Linked DNA regions of Homo sapiens: all the other regions are linked to region 2. The links come from fine-mapping of genetic effects on gene expression. A gene starts in region 2. Each other region holds a variant in brackets. All regions are shown on one strand. Distances are between the middles of the regions. Region 1 holds the start of LOC124903922 (a long non-coding RNA gene). Region 2 holds the start of PIK3R5 (phosphoinositide-3-kinase regulatory subunit 5). Region 3 has its middle 6.6 kb from the start of PIK3R6. Region 4 overlaps PIK3R5 (phosphoinositide-3-kinase regulatory subunit 5). Region 5 overlaps PIK3R5 (phosphoinositide-3-kinase regulatory subunit 5).

Region 1 (4,698 bases), 78 kb before region 2:
CGGAGTGACCCAGCTCCAAGGAGTGGATGAAGATCTCTGTCGTCTTCTCCCCAGTGATGAAGGTCAGCTGGAGAGGGCAGGAGCATGTACATCAGTGTGAACCTCCTGGAGGGGCCCATTTGGCTCCTCCAGCATAGACCTGCTGGCTCTCCCGGGGCAGGGGTGGGGCCTTGCAGGCCCGGCAGGTGGGGAAGAGGCGGTTCGGGGCAGGGAGGCCTTACCTCGGTCTGATAGACTTGCAGCAGCACCGGTCTGGCGGCAAAGCGGCAGTAGTAGAGTAGCATGTCAGCCAGGATGGGCAGCTGGGTTGGGGAGCCCTCCAGGGCCTGGGCTTCAGCCTTCAGGGACTGCTGTGGCCAGAGGGAAGGGGCAGCCAAGCCAGATGGGTGGGTGGATAGATGGTAAGAAGGAGCAAGAATTAGGGAGGAAGAGAGAAGAGAGACATAGAGGCAGCCAGTCAGGGGGAGCTGGTGAGGTGGAAGCAGGAAGCAGGGGAGGGCCGGTGCCCAGCCTCCATGCCCCTCACCTGACCCACTGGCCTCCAGGGAGGCTTCTGGCTTAGCCAGACAAAGGCGGGAGTTGAGGAAGGGGGCTGAAATCTGAGGTCCCCCGGACCCTTCTGAGGGCCCTCCTCCATCACTGCAGTGACCCCAGCTCTCACACTCAGTGTCCTGAGTTCAGGCTCAGTCCTGCTTCTCACCCACACTCCCTGATCTTTTCCAAGAGGGCCCAGGTCCTCCATGGGGGCCTCAAGCCTGATTCCCTAAATCCAGGGCCTTCTAAGTGAGGCTGGGTGACTGCAGCCAGTGGACCCTGTTCCGCAACCACGGGGCCACTTACCTGGCACAGGACTTCAGGGGGCAGGTGCATGAGGCCCAGTACATTGCGCTCATACCAGGGGTCCAGCATGCCGAGGTAGTGGGAGATGTCATTGGTGCTCTCCTCCCATGGGGTGGTGCCCAGCTCCTAGGGCAAAGAACAAGAGTCATCATCCCAGCTCCCCAGGAGGCCTGCCCATCCTAGCTCCAGGGCCTTGGATGGCACCTGCAGCCCCATGCTGAGCTTCTCCCTGCCCTTGGGGAAGTATGACAACTTTCAGTCTTTGTCATATGGCAAAATGTCATGTCCAAGTGCAGGGAGTGAGGGCCAGGCAGGGGGAGGTGCCCTGTCAACACAGGTGCTTGCTTTCCATGACTTCCAATCGGCTTCCTTCAGGTAGCCAGAACTCTACTTTCCCCGACCATTGGCCCAGGCTGGGGACATACTCCAGGGCTGGCGTGCCTAGGGGAGTCTGTCGGGGGTGAGGGCGTCTGGCTCCGAGGGGGTGGACAGGCACCAGGGCTGGTCCCATGACTTCGCTTCACAGGCACGTAGAAGAACTGAAGTTTGAAGAACCGTGTGAGGAGTGGGCGATTGTTCTCCAGCCGCCTGGCAAGAAGAAGATGGTGAGAAGGGGAATGGGCATGGTGGCTCACGCCTGTAATCCCAGCACTTTGGGAGGCTGAGGTGGGTGGATCACCCGAGGCCAGGAGTTCAAGACCAGCCTGGTCAACAGAGGGAAACCCCATCTCTACTAAGACAAAAAAAAAAAAAAAATTAGTCAGGTGTGGTGGTGTGCACCTGTAATCCCAGCTACTCGGGAGGCTGAGGCACAAGAATCGCTTGAACTGGAGAGCCAGAGGTTGCAGTGAGCCGAGATCATGCCACTGCACTCCAGCCCGGGCAACAGAGCAAGACTCTGTCTCAAAATAATAATAATAATAATAATAATAATAATAATAATAATAATAATAAAATAAAAATAAATAAGGGAACTTTTGGTTCCTCTGGGGCCCTAAGCCTCAGGCCCCAGATTCCACCAGCACAACAACCCTGTTACCCAGGGCAGAGGGATGCTCCGCATTACGGCTCTTACCGAAGGTTGCTGTACGCCCGAGCCACCTTCCCTGAAATCCGATCGGAGCCAA[A/G]GACCACAACACGTAGCGTGGAAGCCTTGGGATCCTCATCTCCACTCAGGAAGGGGCGGCGGCGCTGGGGGCGTGAAGCAGGGGCCAGAAGCCAGCTGGGCAGCTGGGTACCGAGTTTGGGCTGGGGCAGGGAGCGGGAGCGCTGGGCCCGGGAAGGGGGTGATACTGGTTCGTCCAGGGGGCTGCAGAGGCTCCCTGCCCGCCTCAGGGGCAGGGCCGTGTCCGAGCTGCCCTCCAGGCTCCGAGAGTCCCTCCGCAGTACCAGCTGGCTGGTGCTCTTGAAGAGTTTATAGATCCTGATGAACTTCTGCCCAGGCCTGCGGTGGCCTCGGCGTTCCTGGCTGCCACGCCTCCAAGGCCACTCGGAGGAGCTCTCCTCGCTGTCCTCCACGTAGCCGCTGTCCATGCCATCAGAGAGGCCTGAGACAAAGGAAGTCAGCAGATGGCGCGAGAGGGCCGGCCCCGAGGCCTGGGAGGATGCAAGGGACAAGGTGGAGTCATGGGACGCCAAAGAGCTGGTGGAGAGCAGGGAATCTCTCTCGGCACAGTGCCCGTCAGTTTCCAAGTCCTCCTCCACCTCCTCCTCCTCCTCTTCCTCCTCTTCATCATCTCCCAGGATCCCTGGCTGGAGTAGCTCCTGTTCCTTGAGCAGGATTTCCTGCAGGATGTCTGCAGGGAAGCAAGGCCAGCACTGTCTGGGCGTCTGGGCCCCGGATCCCCTTCTATATTCCCTTTGGAGGGGAGACAGCAGGACTCAGGGCCAGCCCAGGACTCCTAGCACTGCCCCCTTGCTCTGCTTAGAGCCTGCTCATGTGGGAGAGCTTTGGGGACGGGGTGGGAGCTGCATGGACCCAGGACCAGAAACACAGCTCAGGCAGTGTGGGGCATGGGTGTCACCAGGGCCCCGGCTCCTTACCAAAGCTGTCCTGGCTCCAGCTGTAGGTGTAGCACCTGGCGACAGGGATGGGGATGGTGTGGAGCTTCCCTGGTTTTGCAGTGTCTGTAAGAACAGGGAGGATAGGAGAAGAGGGCTGGGAAGAGGCCTTGGAGATTGGCCAGTCCAGTCCCCTTGCCTTGGAGAAGAGACCAGAGATGGGACAGGATCGGCACAAGGATATGTAGCTGGATAGGCTGAGGCTGAGTTACAGCCAGGGTGCCAGGCTCCAAGCCAGAGGCCCTTCTTTCAAGCACACCATGTAGATGGCATGCCCTTTATGAGCTGTGCGAATGTGGCCAAACCACAACCTCTGAGCCTCATTTTACAATGTGCCCATGGGAGAATAATAGTACTAGCCCAGAAGGTTTTTATGAGGAATATTGTAACAGGGAATGCTAATGGTTCCTCAAAGTCTGTGCTCCCTTCTATGGTACTGGAGTCATAGAGACGATGTTTCCCAGGCTCCTTTGGGGCAAGATGTGGCCACGTGACCAAGGCGGGCTCAAAGGAACATGAGCGGAAGTGATGTGCCCAGCTTCTGCATCACCTTCAACAGAAAAGCCCAGCCTTTGCCCTCGTAAGCACTCTCTTTTCCTCTTCCCACAAGCTGCCATCATGATAGCACCCCCACCCTGCCCCTATAGACAGGAATGAGACACCCTAGGGGATGGCAGAGCAGTGAGATGCTGAAGAAGCTGAGTCCCTGAGTGACTGTGTGGAGCAGAGCCACCAGGCCCGCCTGGACCGTGCACCTTGGGACCTAGAATAGGCCATGGGGAATGTGGGAGAACCCCATTCTCCCAAGAGCCTCACCTAACACCCCAGGGAAGCCAGCTTTTTCTCCCACCGCCTGCAGCTTGGTCCTGAGCCACCGCCGGGCCTCTGCAGCATCCCCGATGCCAGATGCCAGCTCCTGTGCCTCTGCGGTCTCCGTGAAGATGTCCTCAAGCTCTGCCAGGGTCTTGGCCTGAAACCCCAGGAGGAGATGGGCTTTGCTCCTGGACCGTGAGCTAGCTGTCCACCTGTTCCAGTTGCTAGCTTCTTACTGAGGGAGGCAGTGATCTGTCCCCTCCCAGCCTCATCACCCATCTCCTACCCACAGCTGGCCAGGCAGCCAGGCCTCTCCCTGCCCTTCCATTCTCAGGAAATGGTCAGGAGAGAAAGATCCAGAGCCACGGCACTGCAGTTAGGAGGGACTTCAGCGCTCCTCACTGTACCCCATAGAGGGGAAGGAGCTGTGTGGGGTGACACAGCCGACCTGTGACACCTGTGACAGAGCCAGGCCTAGATGCCAGGTCTTCAGCCCAAAGCTCATTCTCGTTCTTATGGCATATGCCATCTTCTGAGGCACCAGTTATCAGCACCCAGTCCTACTGCCCAGGCTGCCACCCAGCTGGTTAGGATCCAGCACACCAGAAACACCCTCTATGAGGTCAGCCCTCCAGCCACCACCCTGCCATGTCACCTGGGTGCAGGAGACTAAGTGTACCCTGGAGACCGTGGCTGAGATGAAGCAGGGAGAGGGTGCTACCTCCTCAGAGAGGTGCTCCACCAGAGCCCCAGGCCCCAGGTACATACCTGTAGCCTGCAGTGCAGGCCCGGGACGTCACAGTGGGCCCCAAAGGTGGCCTGGAAGGCGTGCAGGAGCAGGGTGGTGTAGGCACTGTGAGGCGAGTGTCCGGGCGTACTCAGCTTATTGGCTACAGCAAGGAACTCGGCCTGCACTTCCACTGGGTTCAGCAGCAGCACGGTGCTGGGGACACAGGGGACCGGCTATGGCACCCAGGGGTGCGC
Region 2 (4,698 bases):
CTCACAGTCCTGGTTTGTGAGGCTTCAAAAAGCAGGGGAGGGAGCCCTGAAGCAAGAAAGTAGCTTGACCATCCAAAACTGTCTTCTTTGTCTTCCACGGGTCCACAGGCAAAGACCCACACCACCACAGCCACAACGAGGAAACACGGAAGCCAGCGTTCTACAAACATCCACGGAGCATCTCCCACGTGCAGCCGTTCTCATCATACATGCCTCACTTAATTTTCCACACTGGGCCAGGCACAGTGGCTCATGTCTATAATCCCAGCACTTTGGAAGGCCAAGGTAGACGGATCGCTTGAGCTCAAGGAATTTGGGACCAACCTGGGCAACATGGCAAAACCCTGCCTCTACAAAAAATACAAAAATTAGCTGGGCGCCGTGGTGCTGACCTGTAATCCCAGCTACTTGGGAGGCGGAGGCGGAGGATTGCTTGAGCCTGGGAATTTAAGGCTGCAGTGAGCCATGATCACGCCACTGCACTCCAGCCTGAGTGACAGAGCAAGACCCTGTCTCAATAATAATAATAATAATAATTCCACACAGCTCTATGGGTCAGTATGACAGCCCATTTTATGAATCAGGAGACTGAGGCTGGGTTGGGGGACAGTGTGATGCTGCAGGTCACACAGCTGGATCCGGTTGGAACTTGGGTCTCTTTTCCACATCATGCATGGTTCCCAAGCAACGGCTTCAGCATCATCACTTAAGGAGCTCATTCAAAGTTTTGAAAACTACAGATTCCAGATCCCATCCCTGGAAAGCCACGTTGTAGGGTTGGCTCCAAGAGAGCCCTACCTGCAGTCAGCTCTGGGAGCCAGTGCCTTACAGGTGGTCCTGAGGGCAGGAAGGAAAGTGTGGGGTGGATGAGAAGACACAGAAGGAAAACGAGGGTGTCAGTCCAGAGAGGACCTTGGAGGCAGGCTTGGCCTACTTTTAGCCCTTATTCTGCCTAAACCCACCCCTCCTCTCTACTCCGAGTCTTGTTAACTCGCTTTATACCACATCCTGCTGCTTTAACCTCGCCTTCCTTTTCCTTCTGAACAATCTCCTTCCTCCTACTGACCTGAACTTTTTGTGTATTTACCCCAGGCCGGGATGGGCCAGCACGCGCACATGCGCATGCCCACACACACACACACACACACACACACACGAGTCACGCGGGGATGTCCAGTGTGTAAACACAGATCCTCTGAGAGCAGAAAGCGTGCAGTTCTCTAGGACAGCAGCCGCGTCTGGGCCCAAGGCTGGCTAACTAGCAGGCTGAGTGAGGCTCGACGGAGGGCGCCTTACGCGGGCACTTCCATGACTCCCAGGTTCTGACGGCACAAGAGCCCTGATGCCCACGCTCACGGACAGTTCCCCGCTGGAGCGGGCAGGGGACCTGACCCTACGACACAGGGCGTCCTGTGTCAGAGGCAGGAGGCTGAGGACACAGCTGCGCAGAGCCGCCCAGCAGAGGTTACCCGGATAACGATAAGTGGTCCCCGCGACGCCCCTTAAGTCTCTGGGGTTATCTGGAGCGCAGGTTTGCAGACCCGCTGCCCCCGCGGTGGGCCAGGTCCACGGGGCCGGAAGATAGCAGGATCTGTCCAGCCCTCGGGCTGCGGCGGCTGCTCGCGGAGCCCACTCTCCCCGACGGTCCCCAGCTTGCTCCAGCTCTGCCTGGAGCTCCCATGCGTGCCCTCCGCATCCGCCCTGGCCGCCCAGTCACACACCTGCAGTCCCCGCCGGGCGCCGAGCCCCTCTCCAGCGGCGACTCCCTGCGATTCGGGTGACCGTCGGGACCACCGCGCCCCAGCTGGAGCCGCGCGGCGAGCCGCAGCATCTGCCCAGCCTGGGCTCCTCCGGCGGGCGGGGCGGAGCCTGTCAGGGGGCGGGGCCTAATGGGGCGGGGCTGACCGCGGAGCCGGCCTCTCCAGCCACCTGGCGGCCCGGCAGCGTCAGCCAGGTGCGCGCCCGGCCCCACATCCTCTGGGTCACGCCCCCGAGGCCGCAAGGCGTCTGAGAAGCAGCCCCGGCTCTGACCCGCCAGCCCTCGGAAGAAGCAGACCCTGGCCGGTCCATGGCAGTGGCCCGAGGGGCACCAGCGCGGAGCACCAGCGACCCCCAAGGAGTAAGGGGAGGTTAGGCCCCCGCGTCGGAAGCGCGGCTTTGGCCCCGCAGGAGGGCTGGGCGGAGCAGGGGGGCAGGTCTGGGGTAGGGGCTTAGGGGAAAGACGAGAAAGAGGAAGCTCCGACGAGCTGCTTCCTTCTCTCACTGCGACCCACTTCCTCTTCCTACTTCTATTTTCTTTCTTTTTTTTTTTTTTTTTTTTGAGATGGAGTCTCGCTCTGTCGCCAGGCTGGAGTGCAGTGGCACGATCTTGACTCCCCACAACCTCCGCCTCCCGGGTTCAAGCGATTCTCCTGCCTCAGCCTCCCGGGTAGCTGGGACTACAGGCGCGCGCCACCACGCCCAATTTTTTGTATTTTTACTAGAGACGGGGTTTCACCATGTTGGCCAGGATGGTCTCGATCTCTTGACCTCGTGATCCGCCCGCCTCGGCTTCCCAAAGTGCTGGGATTACAGGCGTGAGCCACTGCGCCCGGCCCCTACTTCTATTTTCTTTGGGTGCCCTTAACCCTTAAAATGCCTGCACTACTGCTGTGCAGACGGGCACCTTGACCCGCATCCTTCTGCAGGAACCTTCATAGAAATACCAGCCAGTCCCGGCGTTCAGCACTGCTGTTCCAGCCTCTGGCTGGACTTCCCGCCCTCCCTGGCCGGCACCAAGGCTACTGTCACCTGAGTGGTTTCCCCAGCCCCTGGGGAAGGGAGTGAGGGTGTGCGGGAGTTCCTGCCTCCAGGGTCAAGGCCCTCTTCTTGCCTCCCCCTTTTCTCCCCCAGACGACGTTGCAGATGATGCTCTACCAAGAGTTGGAAGGACTCCCCAGGGAATCCCACAAGACACTGCGCTTCCTATGCCTCCTTTCCCTCGTTTAAAAAATGGGGATAAGAAGGTTGGCTACTGCTCCGACAGCCCTCACAATGGAAGAGTAGCACTTCATTTGTGGGTTAACAAAGGGCAACGCTGAAATCTCCACTTCCACTATTGAATGGAACTGTGTCATAATATCTGTTAGAGGCGTGCAAACTCGGCCACAAGGTCATGGTCATACGTTATTGTTGGTCAAAAGCCGCAGCCCTACCTGAGGCTTTGAGAGATATGAACACCAATGACTTTTCTTTTCCTGACTCCCGAAATACCAAGAAAAAGCAACTTCCCCAAATGGACAGAAACAGAAAGTACCCTTGGTTGAACACAGAGGCCTGGTTCCAGCCATCGTTAGACGTGGGAAGGAACTCAGACCCCCTCTCCTACCTCATCCCCAACCCCTTCCCCACACGTCACCCTTTCACAGAGAAGGAACCAGAGCCACCAAGGGCTGAGAGAGGACTTGATAAGGATTCCAGTCTTCTGTCTCCCCTGTCCCCACTTTTTCCACCACAAAAATATGGACATTTGGAAGAAGAGGAGAAGAGGGAAGGTACACACTGTGCAAAGGAAGAAAATGGCAGAAATGCTCTGGAATCAGGAATTCAGGAGCAAGAATGACACTGTGTGCCAGATGGAAATGTTGGATTAGGAGAGCACTTGGAAAGGCAAATAATCTGCCAGAGAAATTATGGGATGCCTGCCTTCTGAAAATGGAGGAAAACTGCAAAAGAGTGGCTCATTGGTGCTCACTCCTAGGGCTCTGAGCATCCCAAGAAGCCAACTTGGTCCCATCGTACATCCCCTCAGAAGTAGGCATTCTCCTCTCCACCTACAGCTGTGGCCCAGATGTGGAGCCTGCATGTTATGCCACGCCGTCAACACTGAGTTCTGTCTGCGTCTCCCTGTCACAGATCTGATCAGCACCTGACACCTATCCATTCTCCATTTCCCACCTCCCCAAAGCTGCTGGAAAAACTCTGAAAGGTACCTCTGTCACTCATTAAGCATCTGATTATGTACCTCTTTCTACAACTCCTTTGTTGCTTTGTTTTAAAATCTATGGCTCTTTGAAATCACTCTCCTTCCTTTCACTGCCTAATGTTTTCAAAGAGGAGTCTACCCCTGCCTCCACTTCCTCATCTTACATTTATTCCTCAATTCTCTGAACAGAGACCACCAGGGAAACCCCAAATGTCAACTCCAATGGTTTCATTTTCTTACCTCACTACAGCATTTGGCACCACTCCTTCTTGAAAATCCCCTCCTTGGCTTCTCCTCCACCTCTCACCATGATTTCTGTTTTCTTCTTCTGGCTTCATTTCTTCATCATCTCTTAAACATTACAATGCTTGAGATTTCAGATAAGGCTGCTTCTCTTCTCCCTGGGCAATCTCATCCATTCCCATCATACTGATCCCTCCCAAACTATCGCCCAGACTTCTCTCTTGAGCTCCAGATCTGTAATTCCAAGTGTTTTCTGTACACCCATACCTAGATAATCAATCCAAAAGCCTTTTAATTACTCCATGACCTAAAATAAATTCCTCATCTTCTCCCAAACTCCTTCTCCTGCCTTCCCTATCTCAGTTGACATCATTACTATCCACCAGTGGATAGTAAGATTTCTAGTAACTTATAGCCAGAATATATAAAGAACTCCCACAACTCAAAAGTAGTAAAGACAAAGAATCCAATTTAAAAATGGGCAAAAGACT
Region 3 (4,698 bases), 92 kb before region 2:
CACAAACAAACAACAACAAGAAGAACAAAAACTACTTAGGTAATCCATAAATATATTTCCATTATAAAAACACTCAAGCATTGTAGGACCCTAAGAGGAAAAAAGGAGGGTCTCTCTCCTCCCCCTCCTCAATTTCTTTACCCTCCCACCCAGTGATAACCATGGTAAATAGCTTAGGGTAGTTTATACATGTGAGCACCATACAAATCGCTCTTTAACTTGCTTTGTTTACTTGAAGATCACGATATATTGGTACATAAGGATCAACCACATTCTTTTCTTACATTTAAATGTACATGTTTGTTTGGACTAGTTACACATTTACAGGGTTCGAAATGGGAAGGACACAGAGAAGATCAGTCACTCCCTCTTCCGAAAGCTGCCCTTCAGGTGAAGAAAACCTTGTGACCTCCTCCTTCTCTTTTGCGGGTGCAACTGTCCCCTCTCCCAAACTCCTTGGTACTGGCAGCTCTGTGATGAGGTGAGAGGGCAGACACTTTGGGGTTGCTGTGGAGGGCGGGGCCTGGTCTCTTCTCATTTCCCCTGTTCTCATGGCTGCCTTGAGAGGGAGACCAAGTGGACCCCTGCTTCCTCTCCCTCTGCCCCTAATACCGCAGGTTCCTCCTTGGACAGGCTTTTGCTGGTGGAGCTGAGCTGGGGAGGTGTTAGGAGTCTCTTCATCTGCATGATATGCATATCACCCTCTCCATTTTCTTTTTCCAAATGAACTCACACCAGGAAGTGGAACAAATCAAGATGGCTGGGGTCAACCAGGAAATCAGTGAGAAAACGCAAAGACCCCAACTTGCATTATTTATGCAAATTGCCTGCCCTCCAAACATGTGCAGGACCACACACCCACTCATGTGCACACGCACACACACACACACACACACACACGCACGCATGCACACACTGAGCTACACCCCCAAAAGTAAGCCAGGCTACCTGGCTGGGCCCTCATCCTGGCACGTGCCTCTCACTCTGTGTGACCCTGTGCAGGCCTCTCCCAGTCTCTGGGCCTCAGTTTCCTCCTCTGTAACCTGAGGGGCTGCAGATTGGGTTTGCAAAGCCCTCCTCAGCTTTCTCAGCCCCAAAACGATTCTGTTCTGGCCTCAGAGACTTTCGGCTACAGTTTTGCTCAGAGAAGGCCTCTGGTCCCTGGTTGCAAGGGCCCCTTCCTTGGGTGTGTGGGGGTGGGGGCCGCTCTGCTCCCTCCCTCCTCTTCCCCAGAGGTCTCGGGGGACCCCCTTCAGTCTGCTCTGGAGCCAGGAGCGACATTCACCATTCACCGAGGGCTTCCTTCCTGACTGCCCTCCCCTTAGCAGTGGTCCGCGCAGACCAGCCTGGAGTCCCGCCAACCCAGTCTGGCCCCAGCTTCCTCTCCTCCTCTATGCCCCCTCCAACTTTTCCACCCCTGCCACTCCCACCATTCCTGAGGGTGTGTGAACACAGCTTCTATTTTGAAGCTATCAGAGCGTCTCCAGCGTTCCATTAGAAACGAAGCCATTCTTCTCAGACATCTGTGTGATCCTTTTCATGGCCTCAGCTTACCCACCACCCACACGAGAGGTTCCAGAGAGCAGCAGAGATTAGTGGTTAAGCGCAGGGACTCTGGACCCCACCTGTCTGTGCTTAAATCCTGGATTCCCCTTTTTACTGTCTCTGTGAGCTTGGACAAGTTACTTGTCTCTGCCTCAGTTTCCCTGCCTGTAAAAGGGAGCATAATTGTACCTACCTCATGGGGCTGTGGCACAAATGAGTTAACGTAAGCATGTAAAGCACACAGAGCAGCGCCTGACACGTGCTCAGTAAGTGCTGAAAGTGTTTGCTGAGAGGTCAGTTCACTCGACGCAGACATTCACAGGTGATTCTCTGTGCAGGTTGCAATGACTGAGACGCTGCACCTTTGAGCTGGAAATATCTGAGATCCTTCGAACAAGCGCCATTTCTTCCCACTCCCCCCGTGCAAAGAGTGGCAGACACACGTACCTGCTGTGACCACAGCCATGTCTCCAGGGAGCCCACACTCAGAGTCTCCGGGGCTGTGGTCCGAGCCGGGACATAGGTGTGCCTGAGCACAGAACAGAGAGAAACAAGCTGGCACGCCTGGGGACAGAGTCTGCCACCTGCCTCACTTTGCCCCCAGAGGGATGGGGGATGGCACCCTCTCCCAGGAGGCATTTCCTTTACCCTGATTTTACTGGTATGGTTGGGGGAAGAAAGAGAAGGATTCAGAGACTTGGGGAAAGGAGGAAGTGGATTCTTCCTCAAGAAAATGGGGGAGCCCTTTCCCCAGGGAAGCTGTGAACATTACCGGTGCTGGAGTGGGTGGCAGTGTGGCAATGCGGGAGGGGCAGTCTGAAGGCCCAGGGCAGGCACCAGGCTGGCTGGGTCCACACAGCATCTCGGGTGTGCCTGGAGCCGCAGGGGCTGAAAACTGTGCTGCTTCTGCTTTGGGCAGACAGGGGGCTGCGGGCTTCTTGCCCTGGAGGCTGTGGGAGAGCCCTTTCCCCGGGGG[G/GA]AGGCATGACTGGGATGCCAGGGACTTCAAGGAGAGGTCTGAAGATGGTGATAGACCACTACCTTCCGGCCCCTAGAAGAAGCTCCCAGCTACCTGAGGAGAACAAAGAGGTGTAAGCCATTGTGTCTGGAGGAGCCCCCTCTCGGTAAGGCTTCTGCTCACAGGGAGCCCTGTGTTGTACCTGAGCGAGTTAGAGAAAACGCCACACTTTGAGATGAATTAAGAGTCTGTTTATAGTTAGTGATTATTACCAGTAGTTCTTTAATTTACGGGTCTTCATAAGATGTACTGTACAATGCTCAATTGTTATGTCATTTAAAGACATCAGGTTCATCTGTTTACTGAGCTAGAAACATAGTATGTAGTTTCACTTTTTAAAATGCAACAGCTGTGCTGAAATTTTTTTTATCATTAACACTTGAAGTAATAAAATAGGCTTCATTTATTTAAAAAAAATAGAGTCCGTTTATTTAGCCGGTGGTCAAGAGACGGCTAACGCTCAAAATTCTCTTGGCCCCGAAGAAGGGGCTAGATTTTCTTTTATACTTTGGTTTAGAAAGGGGAGGGGGATCTAGTTAAAACAATTTTACAGAAATAAAGTAGGCAAAAAGTTAAAAGGATAAATGGTTACAGGAAAGTAAACAGTTCCAGGTGCAGGGGCTTTAAGACTATTACAAGGTGATAGACGCGGGGCTTTGGGCGTTATCAATCGGACGAATTCCTGGGAACTGCGGATATCACTCGCCACAGTATCTTATCAGTTAATTGCATTTTTGGATGTGCTGGGAGTCAGCTTGCACAAGTTAAGTCCTCGAAGAAGGGGCTGCCAGTGAAAGAGCCAAGATGGAGTCTGTCTGGCTCTCTTACCTAAGGGAGAGTCAATTCAGGTGGAACCAAGGCTAGGTGATTAAAGGAAAGAGGGAGAGTCTAAAAACAGGGTTAGTAAAAACAAGGTTGAGCATTACACCTGAGGCCCGGTAGGCTACCTGGACTACAGTCTCAGCAGCACCATCCCCTTTCACATTGCGTCCCCTGATGAGCCCTACACACTCCCCGGAAAGTAGACACTGTGTCATTTTCACAGGCAAGGAAGCGAGGCTTGGAGACATCGGGAGGCGGCCAGGGTCACTCCAAGGGTGAACGTTCCTGCTCCTCCCTGGCCTCCCTGTGATCCGAGGTTTAGCCTGAGAGAGTGCCGTATCCGACAAAGGGAGCAGAGGAAATGTAAGGCCACAGGGGTTCTGCCAGGTGCAGGAAGGAATGATGGAACTGGGGGCCAAGAGAGCGCTCCCTTCTACGGTCCCAAACCCTGAGACCCGCAGTGCACAGCTTGATTTTGGTCCCCTAACTGAGGCCTGCCCAGCCTTCTAGGAAGCAGGAAGTGGCAAAAGGAGACACCTATCTCCTCCCAAAGTTGGAGAAATATACCCATTCCAGGGATGGCAAGACCAGGAGGTCAACATGCCTAGGGCAGAAGTAATTCTGCTGTGAGTAGTGGGAGGTGAGAGTCTGCAAGTTTATGGCCAGCTCCTGAGCTCTTGGTGAGGTACCATGCGGAGGAGGGGCCACCTTGAGGAGGAGGATGGGGTGCTGAAAAGGACAGCCTCCTCCTTTCTCTTCATCTGCCAACAGCAGGACCCAATGGGGATTCTAGTTTCAGTCCCCTACCTCGGCCCCTTTCCTCAGTGTTCAATGACTCGGATTACAAAAGCTCATGGACTGGATGAGACATTCTGGCTCAGAGCCCCTTTAGCCTATAACCACTTGGCCCATGGATTCGCCTACAGCTCATGGTGATAGTATCCAGGGTATGTGTCTGACCAATAGGGGATCCATTCTTAGGTCAGCCAGTGATTTTTGTGAAGTATGGTTTAAAGAATCTTCTGTCTGGGCGTGGTGGCTCATGCATGTAATCCCAGCACTTTGGGAGGCCGAGGTGGGTGGATCACCTGAGGTCAGGAGTTCGAGACCAGCCTGGACAACATGGTGAAACCCTGTCTCTACTAAAAAAATAAAAAAAATTAGCTGGGTGTGGTGGCATGCGCCTGTAGTCCCAGCTACTTGGGAGGCTGAGGCAGGAGAATCCTTTGAACCCGGGAGGCGGAGTTTGCAGTGAGCTGAGAATGGGCCACAATGTTCTATCAATTTCAGTAACATCAAATTTGTTAATTGTGTTG
Region 4 (4,698 bases), 84 kb before region 2:
AGCAGCCCACCCCTTACCCTGACGAAGGCAATCCTCCTCTGGAATGTCTCTTCCCTCTTCAGTCTGGGTTCTGCCTCAGCCACGAACTGGGAAGGAGTGAGGAACATCCCAACGGCAATGAGAGTATCCCAGTGACTCCAAACAGGAGGAATCAGTGTTCAGAAAGTCAGGCACTAAGCTTTACTGAACACCTACTGGGAGCTCGGCACTGGGCTAGGTGCTTTGCAGACAATTTAACCTTTTAAGGATGTCTTATTTCCACCCCAACTCTCCACTCCATTTTAGTGCTGGAGAAATGAAGGCTTAAAGTTAATTAACTTCCTCTAGTGATTTAGCTAGAACTGAGCTGCTACTAAATTTAACCCTATCCTGTCTTCTAAGAATCTCAGATTCCAAAAGGAGATCAAGAGAGAATCTGTGCCGGGTTCTGAGAGTAGACAGGTCCAGCGTTAGTGCTGTTTTTCTGGAGACTCAGGAAACTTGAGAGAAATTATTGAGGTGTGTGCGTGTGTGTGTGCGCATGTGCGTACATGCATGCCATGTGTGTGTGGTGTTTGCAGGGAGAGGTGGTCTTGAAGTAGAGAAATGTTTCATCCACATTTCAATCACCTGAGCCCCACAGAGGAGGGGACTGAACTCCAGACATACAGGGTCCTCAAGTCTTTGGCAAAGTAAGGGGTAGGCTCAGCCAAGGTTGAGAGAAAAGGCCCAAGCCATCCCCCTGAGCACCAGAGCCTCAGATCTTCCTTCTAGAAAGGATCCTAGACCATGCTAATGGTCAGGGACTTCAGAGGTCAATTTACCCATCCTTCTCCTTCTACTGCCAGGAATCTAAGAGGCTATGGGGTCTGGCCCTTCTCTCTCTGATAGCTGTTGCTTTCCCAGAACCCTGAGGCCCCAGAAACCCTCTACTCCCAGCCCCTGCTCATTGCAGGACCCACAGTGGGACTATGGCTCTGCACAGGGCCATTCAGTTCTCCACAGAGAGGGACTGTCCTGGAGGGGTGGCCGAGGAGGTTGCCCCAGGGCTTCTGTCCAGTCTGGCGCTGGGCCCACACTAGGGCAGAGCTCCACTGAAAGTCATGATGGGCAGGCAGAGAAGGGAGCAGAGATCAGGTGCGGCCTGGGCCGGCAGGTCAGGAGGCGTCTGGGGTGGTGAGGAGAGGTCGCTCTTCTCTGGCTTGTAGCACGGTGAGACCTCACATCTGTGCAGCAGGGCAGGGGCCAGGGATCAGAGCAGGCCCCCATCCTTCCAGCTCCTTCCAGGCCTCTGGGTTGGTGGGAGCAGAAACTGCTCCCCTCCCTAGGACCCCCCTTTCCTACCTGACTACACTCTGCAGGATCTTTCTCTCATCCTGGTCCAGGCACACAGCAAAGGGGCAGCTGTTGGAGCCGATGATCTGCACCTTGTCCACTTTGATCTGCGATGTGCTAATCTGGAAGGAAGGCCCAGGTCAGCCCCAAATCCCTGGCCATCCAACACTGCCAGCCCCTGGCAGTTCCTTTTCTCAGAACTGCCCATCCACTTCTAGGGGTGTGGGAGGGCAGGGGTTTGTCTGACTGCGCTCCAGGGTTAATGGCCAGGTCACAGGAGGGAGCCTGAGGCCTCCATCAGCCCCTGCCTCCTCTCCAGCATCTGGAAGAAGCAAGTGCCCCCTGAGGAGACATTGCCCTGCCTGCTGCCCTCACCGGAGCAGCCCCAGGTCCCCTGATCCAGAGCCTGCTTTCTTTGGTCTCAGAGTCTTAGGACTCTCCTGGCACCCACCCCACAACTTTTCCACATACACGCGTCCTCTCACAGGGCACCCCTACCTCCCCGACACCCCGCAACACTCCACACCTGTGTGCATCCCCAAATCATACCCCTCACCCTGCCTCTCCTCCCCCACCTCTCCTCTCTCTCTCACACACACACAAGTATGTACACACGGGTGTGTATGTGCACACATGCACACACATACATGTGCACACACACGTACACACATACGCACATGCACGCTCCAGTAAGTCTCTTGAGGGTATGGCTGGAAGGAGAGGGAAGCCCGTACCTGGTTAAAGCCCTTCTTGGATTTGGAGTTCTGCCTTTTCACCACTTCTGTCAGGTTTAGCGTCAGGGCCTCCATGCTGGAATCTGAGGGGCAAGGACACTCAGGCCAGGCTCAGAGCACCTCCCTACTGCACACCCCACACTGA[C/T]CACCCCACTCACCCAGCTCCTCCTGCTTCCGGCAGGCCTTGTTGAGGTTCACGGAGGTACAGACCTTCTCCAGGTTGCTCCAGCGACTTCGTCCACTGATGGCCCCCTGGAAATGCAGTGTAGCCAGACCCTCTGAGTCCAGAGGCCCCGGTGCCTGCTGCCTTCTCTTTGAAGGCCCATCAGTGACAGGGGGTTGCCTCTAGTTAGCATATCCCCAGAAAGCCCTCTCTTATTCACCAGGGCCCCTGTACCACCCTGGATAGACCTGGATGACTCCAGGGAAGAGCTCACGTCACTGGCTTGGTCTAGGGGTCAGCAGCCTCTGTGACCAGGTTGAAAGGTACAAGAGCTGAGAGCACCTGCAGGGGTGGTCCTGAAGCTCTCCTGCCGGGCCCAGAGTGAAGAAGGGTTGGGCCCACAGACATGCTGTTTCTGGCAGAGCCAGACCTGAACCCCCTCTTCAAGTCTTTGTGTGAATGTCTCTGTCATCAGGGACCTCCATGTTGTTAAACCGAAGAACACTTCTTGGTCCTCAGCTTACTTGACCTTACAGTTCACTGCTCTCCCCTCCTTGAAAACCTCTCCTGGGCTTTCGTGATGGCACCTTCCTGGTTTTTCTAGCGCCTCTCTGGCTGGTGCCTCTCTGCTTTGCTGGATCGCTGCCCTCTGCCCGCCATTACATCATGAAGGGCTCAAGGTTCTCCCCTTGGTCCTCTGCTCTTTGTATTCCCTGCTTCCCCCCTTCAGGAGTCTCCTCCGTGACCTTTTTCCATTAGCAGCTGTCCACCCATCTTCATATTCACCACAAAGTCAGGCCCGTTCAGCCAGCCGTCTATTCTCACTGTCTCCTTATACCTCTCAAGGCCTCTCAACCTCAATAATATGTCCCGACCCAAACTCAAGCTCTTCCCCAACTGGACCCCGGCCTCTTCCTGTGGTCCCCCCAGAGAAGATGGTGCTGCCAGTCACAGAGGAGTGACTCCAGGAGTCTGGCCTCTCCTTTCCTAACCCATCCATGGGCCCTGCTGATTACATCACTCACATCTGTCTCCCATTCCTTTCCAGCTCTGCCACCACTACCCTAGTGCAGGCTGCTGCCCTAATTTCTCTTCTGGACCATGGCAACAGCCTCCTAACTGGCCTTCCTGCATCACTTGTGGACCCTTCCTATCTGTCCTCCACAGAGCTGCCAGAGGGAGCTTCCAAGCCTCAGATATAATCATGTCACAGGCATTCCCAGCCCCACCACAAACATAAGCCCCCTTAATGGATATCCACTGCTCTTAGGACTAGGATAAAATTCCTTTCATTGGGTCGGGCGTGGTGGCTCATGCCTGTAACCCCAGCACTTTGGGAAGCCAAGGCAGGTGGATCATGAGGTCAGGAGTTCGAGACCAGCCTGGCCAACGTGGTGAAACCCCGTCTCTACTAAAGATACAAAAAATTAGCCGGGTGTGGTGGCGGGCACCTGCTACCCAGCTACTCAGGAGGCTGAGGCAGGAGAATTGCTTGAACCAGGGAGGCGGATGTTGCAGTGAGCCAAGATTGAGCCATTGCACTCTAGCCTGAGAAACAGGGCGAGACTATGTCTCAAAAAAACAAACAAAAAACCACAAAACTCCTTTCATTGCAATTAAGGCTCTTGGTATGCTGGTCCCCCATTTCTTTAGCCTCACCTCAGCATCATGTTCCCACCAGCTGTCTCTGCTCCAGCCTGGGGGTCTTCTTTCAGAGTGCTTCAAGGTGTTCACACTGCCTCCCACCACAGGGCCTTTGCACATGCAGTTTCTGCTGCTGTGAGAGCACTCACCTCTCTTCTCAGCCTAATTAATTCCTGGTTTTCCCTCCAATATTAACTCAGGTGCCTTCTCAAGGAAGCCTTCACTACTAACTCTCCTGACTGGGTTCGGTTTGCCACTTAGGAACATCCCGTGTCCCTCTCCTCATCCATGTGTCACAGTTGTAATTTTACATCGTGTGCATCATCGAACCAATGCCTACCACCCACTCCAGGGGGCCAGCAGGTCTCCTGGGACCACGTCTGTCCTTTGTTCACTCTTAGGAAGGCTCCAGGGCCTAGAACAGTGCCTGGGCTGTGGAAGACGTCTAGCAAGCACCTGGCATGTGGCTACAGTGAGTGTCGGTGCCTCCTGCCCACCTCCTTCACTGCCAAACGCACTGCAGCCCCAACACCACCGTCCATCTGCTGTTTTATTGCTTTGTCATCACTTGCCGCTCTCTGGAATTATCTTGGCTATTTCTTTGTTTCCTCGTTTCTTGTCTGTCTCCCTCCTCTAGACAAGCTAAAGTGAGGCCTAGGCTTCCCTGCTCAACCCCTCTTTTCCCCTGCCCAGCACAGAGGCAGCATGGGCAGGTGCTAAGAGGATATCTTTGGAATGGCCGAAGGAAGAAGCCCACCTGTGAGGCCAAGCTTCCCTCAGCCTGGACCTTGGGATGCGACCTGCTCAGAGAACTCATGTCTTCTGGCATGTCATGGACAGCCC
Region 5 (4,698 bases), 28 kb before region 2:
TCCCAGTGAGTCAGTCTTCAGAGGTGTTGAACGAGTCGTTTTTGGCCACCCACAGTGTGGGCAGGTTGCCTGGGAGACCTGCTTCCTTCCTTGTTTCCTCTGCCAGAGGCCAAAGGAAGAGATTCAGGTCAGAACCCAAGCTTCCCCGGAGCTGTTCCTAAGACCTCAGAGTACAAATACAGGATAATTTATATTTCTATTAATTTATTTCTTTCTGTACATTGTGCTCTCCCCTCACCCTATCCCCATGCTAAATAAGAAGGCAACCATCCTGAGGAAGGTTTGTGGCAGGAAAGTGAACAGCTCTGAGCTCCCGGACAGCTCCTGGCAGGATGGGGCTTGGCATCGGATTTCAGTCAACATAAGAAGACAAGGCCACGCATGGTGGCTCACGCTTGTAATCCCAGCACTTTGGGAGGCTGAGGCGGGCGGATCACGAGGTCAGGAGATCGAGACTATACTGGCTAACGCAGTGAAACCCGATCTCTACTAAAAATACAAAAAATTAGCCGGGCGTGGTGGCGGGCACCTGTAGTCCCAGCTACTCGGGAGGCTGAGGCAGGAGAATGGCGTGAACCCGGGAGGCGGAGATTGCAGTGAGCTGAGCTTGCGCCACTGCACTCCAGCCTGGGTGACAGACCGAGACTCCATCTCAAAAAAAAAAAAAAAAAGGAGACAATGTTTATTTCTATTTCTTTTATAGACTTTAATTCTTAAAGTAGTTTTAGGTTTATAGAAATATTAAAGTACAGAGAGTTCCTATATACTCCCTCTCCTTCCTCCTCCCACCCACAGTTTCCTCTATTATTAATATCTTCCATTAGTGCGGTTCATTCGTTAAAATTAATAAACCAATATTGATACAAGAGTAGTCACTGAAGTCCACAGTGTGCGTTAGGGTGCACTCTTTGTGTTGTACAATTCTATGAGTTTCTCCAAATATATAATATCAATACACATTACAGTATCACAGAATATTTTCACTGCCCAGAAAATCCCCTATACTCCATCTATTCATCCTACTCCCTCCAGCATCTGGTAGCCATTCTTCTTTTTTACTGCTTCCATAGATTGGCCTTTTCCAGGACATCACATAGTTGGGATTATACAGTATGTAGTTTTTTTCAGATTGGCTTCTTTCATTTAGCAATATGCATGCACTTAAGATTCTTTCATGTTTTTTCATGGCTTGATAGCTCTTTTCTTTTTCCCACTGAATAATATTCCATTGTATGGATGCACCTTTATAGTAAGTCTTACAAGTCTCTATAGCAGGTCTTAGTAAGTTAGTAATGTCAGTCTTCTGACTTTGTTCTTCTTCAATGTTGTGTTGTTTATTCTAGGTCTTTTTCTTTTCATATAAGTGTTAGAATGAGTTTGTCAATATTCACAAAGTAATTTATTGGAGTCTTGATAGAGATTGCATCGAGTCTAGAGATAAAACTAAAAGAACTGACAGCTTAACAATAGTGAGTCTTTCTATACATGAACATGGAATACCTCTCCATTTATTTAGATTTCTGTAGATTTTTTTATCCATTTTATTGTTTTCTCATATAAATCTTGTATATATTTTGTTAGATTCATATCTGATTATTTCATTTTTTGGTGCTAGTGTAAATGGTATTGTATTTTTAATTCAAATTCCAATTGTTCATTGCTGGTATATAGGCAAGCACTTGACTTTTGTGTATTTATCTTGCACTCTGAAACCTTACTATAATTGCTTAGTTCCAGGAATGTTGTTTTTTGTCATTGTTGATTCTTTGGGATTTTATACATAGACAATCATGTTATTTGGTGAACAGAAACTTCCTTCCCAATCTGTATACCTTTCATCTCCTTTTCTTATATTTTTGCTTTACGTAGGACTTCCAGTACGATGTTAAATATGAGTGGTAAGTGAAGACATCTTTGCCTTGGTCCCAGTCTTAGGGGGAAAACATCTAGTTTCTCACCATAATGTTAGCTGTACGTTTTCTGTATAAGTATTTATCAAGCTGAAGAAGTTCCTCTCTATTTCTAGTGTGATGAGAATTTTTATCATAAATGGGTATTGGACTTTATCAAATGTTTCTTCTGTATCTAGTTTTATGATTTTTCTTCTTCAGCCTGTTGATGTAATTAACTACGTTAGTTGACTTTCAAATATTGAATCAGCCTTGTATATCCAGAATAAATCCCTCTTAGCTGTGATCTATAATTCTTTTCGTGTATCGTTGGATTCAATTTGCTAATGTTTTATTGAGGATTTTTACACCTATATTAATGAAAGATATTGATCTGTAGTTTTCGTTTTTTGTAATATTTTTGTCCGGTTTTGGTATTAGGTAATGCTGGCCTCATAGAATGAGTTAGGAAGCACTCCCTCTTCTTCTATTTTCTGGAATGGACTGTAGAGAGTTGCCATCATTTTTTCTTTTGTGTGTGTGTGTGTTTCACTCTTGTTGCCCAGGCTGGAGTGCAATGGCACAATCTCGGCTCATTGCAACCTCCACCTCTTGGGTTCAAGTGATTCTCCTGCCTCAGCCTCCTGAGTAGCTGGGATTACAGGCACCTGCCACCACACCCAGCTAATTTTTTGTATTTTTAGTAAAGACGGGGTTTCACCATGTTGGCCAGGCTGGTCTTGAACGCCTGACCTCAGGTGATCTGCCTGCCTCAGTCTCCTAAAGTGCTGGGCTTCCACATGTGAGCCAC[C/T]GCACCCGGCCATTTTTTCTTTAAATGTTTGGTAGAATTCACCAGTGAAACCATCTGGGCCTGAAACTTTTTTGTTTTGGAAGATTATTGATTCAATTTATTTAATAGATATAGGCCTATTCAGATAATCTACTTCTATTTGTATGAGTTTTAATAGAAATAAGAAATTATTCCATTTCATCTAAGTTAGCAAATTGGTGGGCATAGAGTTGTTCATAATATTCCTTTATTATCTTTTCAATGTCCATAGGTTTGGCAGTGATTTTTACTTTTTTTCTTGAGCTGTAATTCATGTAACGTAAACTCAACATTTTAAAGAATACCCTTCAGCGGCTTTTACTATACTCACTAAGTATGTAACCATCACAACTATCTGATCCCAGAATATTTTCATCGCTCCAAAAAGAAACCCTATACCTATTAGCAATCACTCTCCATTCTCCCTCCCCTTATCCTCTGGCAACCAGTCATCTACTTTTTGTCTTTATGGGTTTGCTTATTCTGGACAATTCATATAAATGAAGTCTTATGATATGTGGTCTTTTGCATCTGGTTTGTTTCACTTAGTGCATGTTTTCTAGGTTCATCCATGTCGTAGTATGTAACAGTACTTACTCCTTTTTATGACTGAGTAATATTTCACTGTGTGGACATACCAAGAATTTCTCAGATACACTTGAAGCATTTCAAGTATATATTTGTAATTTTATTTCTCAAATGCTTGAATTTATGGACCAAGATTCATATTGGATACATGGGAGCTACTTGCTCAGAGCAAAAGAAAAAGATGAGAGACAGTATCCAGGTATGACCCAAGTTTACCTTTCTACATGAGGGACAGTAAGAAATGAACGTAGCCTGGAGTTTCCTCTGTAAAAAGAGAATCCTGCTTGAGTCTTGTGGGCTTACATAAGCTGGTGCCACCGCCATCAGCTACTACCCACAGTGAGTTCCTACTACCTGTCAGCTGCTGGAAGAGGCAGGCACTTTCACATGGGACAATCCTTCCAGGTGGTCATTCTTCATCTCTGTTTTACACATAAGGAAACGATGGCTCTGAGAGATAAAGTCACTTTCTCAGGATCTGCAGCAAGTGAGAGCAATGATGCTAACTCAGGCCTGCCGAACACCAAAGCCCTCCCCAGCTGTCAGGTAACACCTCGAATTCTCTACCCAATTGCTCCAGCAGTAGGAATTCCTAAACTTTTTTGCACCATGGGACCATTCAGCAGTCTGACATCTACAGACCCCTCTTCAGAATAATGCTTTAAATGCATGAAATAAAATACACAGAATTGCAAAGGAAATGAGTTACACTGAAATACAATGGTCAAACTATTTTTAAATCATCAGATTTATGAAATGGGAGTATACGTTCTTCTCATTAACACATGAAATAATAAAAGCCCAGCAGTGAGTCTAATCACTGTGATCACCTAAACGTAGTAAAGAGCATGAATGACATTTGAGGTATCTGCAACCTCAAAGTGACACGAAAACATCTGGATTTCTGTTGGTGACAAAGTCACAGGTGCTACTGATATGACTGTGGTTTTTGCCTACGTTCAAATGCGAACTTCAGTTACAGGTGAGTGAAAATAACGATGCCACGTGTTCTCCATCCAAGTTCACGGATGCCTGGCTGAGAATCTCTGCTCCCCAGAAGCTGTGCAGCCAAGAGGAATGGGAACGTGGCCCCTCCCTCTCCCAGGGACTGTCATTGCCTTTTGATATTCATGTATTCTGGAGTCCTGGTGTGAGAAGGGGTCACCTTCCTGCCCCAATGTCCTTCCCTACTCCAGAATTCCTCAAATCTGCGTATTTCTGGAAAGCTCCAAATAGAGTGTTTCAGTTCTCATGGTGGTCCCCATCTCAGCTTAGTCTTACACATCTCTCTCAGGACAGTTTAATTCCTTTTAAAAACAACCCCCAGAGAGCTGCGGGGAGTTTCTAATCTCTCATATCAGGCTTCTTGTATGACTTCACAAGGGCAGCCCC

Evidence for each region. PIP is the estimated chance that this variant, and not a neighbour inherited with it, causes the effect.
Region 1: its variant is fine-mapped to the expression of PIK3R5 in whole blood (TOPMed, PIP above 0.99).
Region 3: its variant is fine-mapped to the expression of PIK3R5 in whole blood (TOPMed, PIP above 0.99).
Region 4: its variant is fine-mapped to the expression of PIK3R5 in whole blood (TOPMed, PIP above 0.99).
Region 5: its variant is fine-mapped to the expression of PIK3R5 in whole blood (TOPMed, PIP above 0.99).

Annotation. Positions count from the first base shown.
Region 1 is chr17:8,886,256-8,890,953 of GRCh38, forward strand. PIK3R5 (phosphoinositide-3-kinase regulatory subunit 5) reads right to left here. Exons shown (of 19, transcript NM_001142633.3): 7 at 4,483-4,657; 8 at 3,718-3,871; 9 at 2,884-2,967; 10 at 1,916-2,636; 11 at 1,266-1,428; 12 at 841-966; 13 at 222-350; 14 at 1-67. It overlaps LOC124903922 (a long non-coding RNA gene), which reads left to right and starts at 1,367. Exons shown (of 2, transcript XR_007065613.1): 1 at 1,367-1,445. LOC124903919 (a long non-coding RNA gene) reads left to right here. Exons shown (of 3, transcript XR_007065610.1): 3 at 1-39. RefSeq lists enhancers at 1,676-2,484, 2,485-3,293. The variant A/G (reference allele first, on the strand shown) is at 1,968.
Region 2 is chr17:8,963,875-8,968,572 of GRCh38, forward strand. PIK3R5 (phosphoinositide-3-kinase regulatory subunit 5) reads right to left here and starts at 1,833. Exons shown (of 19, transcript NM_001142633.3): 1 at 1,722-1,833. It overlaps PIK3R5-DT (PIK3R5 divergent transcript), which reads left to right and starts at 1,973. Exons shown (of 3, transcript NR_184080.1): 1 at 1,973-2,129; 2 at 2,893-3,967. RefSeq lists silencers at 1,757-2,076, 2,147-2,246.
Region 3 is chr17:8,871,930-8,876,627 of GRCh38, forward strand. No RefSeq gene overlaps it. Among named protein-coding and RNA genes, the nearest start is that of PIK3R6, 6.6 kb to the left of the region's middle. The variant G/GA (reference allele first, on the strand shown) is at 2,522.
Region 4 is chr17:8,879,582-8,884,279 of GRCh38, forward strand. PIK3R5 (phosphoinositide-3-kinase regulatory subunit 5) reads right to left here. Exons shown (of 19, transcript NM_001142633.3): 16 at 2,207-2,300; 17 at 2,049-2,131; 18 at 1,324-1,436; 19 at 1-1,205. The coding sequence ends at 1,058. All of the region lies in intron 1 of LOC124903919 (a long non-coding RNA gene), which reads left to right. Among named protein-coding and RNA genes, the nearest start is that of PIK3R6, 14 kb to the left of the region's middle. The variant C/T (reference allele first, on the strand shown) is at 2,194.
Region 5 is chr17:8,935,400-8,940,097 of GRCh38, forward strand. All of the region lies in intron 1 of PIK3R5 (phosphoinositide-3-kinase regulatory subunit 5), which reads right to left. Among named protein-coding and RNA genes, the nearest start is that of PIK3R5, 28 kb to the right of the region's middle. RefSeq lists a silencer at 4,135-4,244. The variant C/T (reference allele first, on the strand shown) is at 2,701.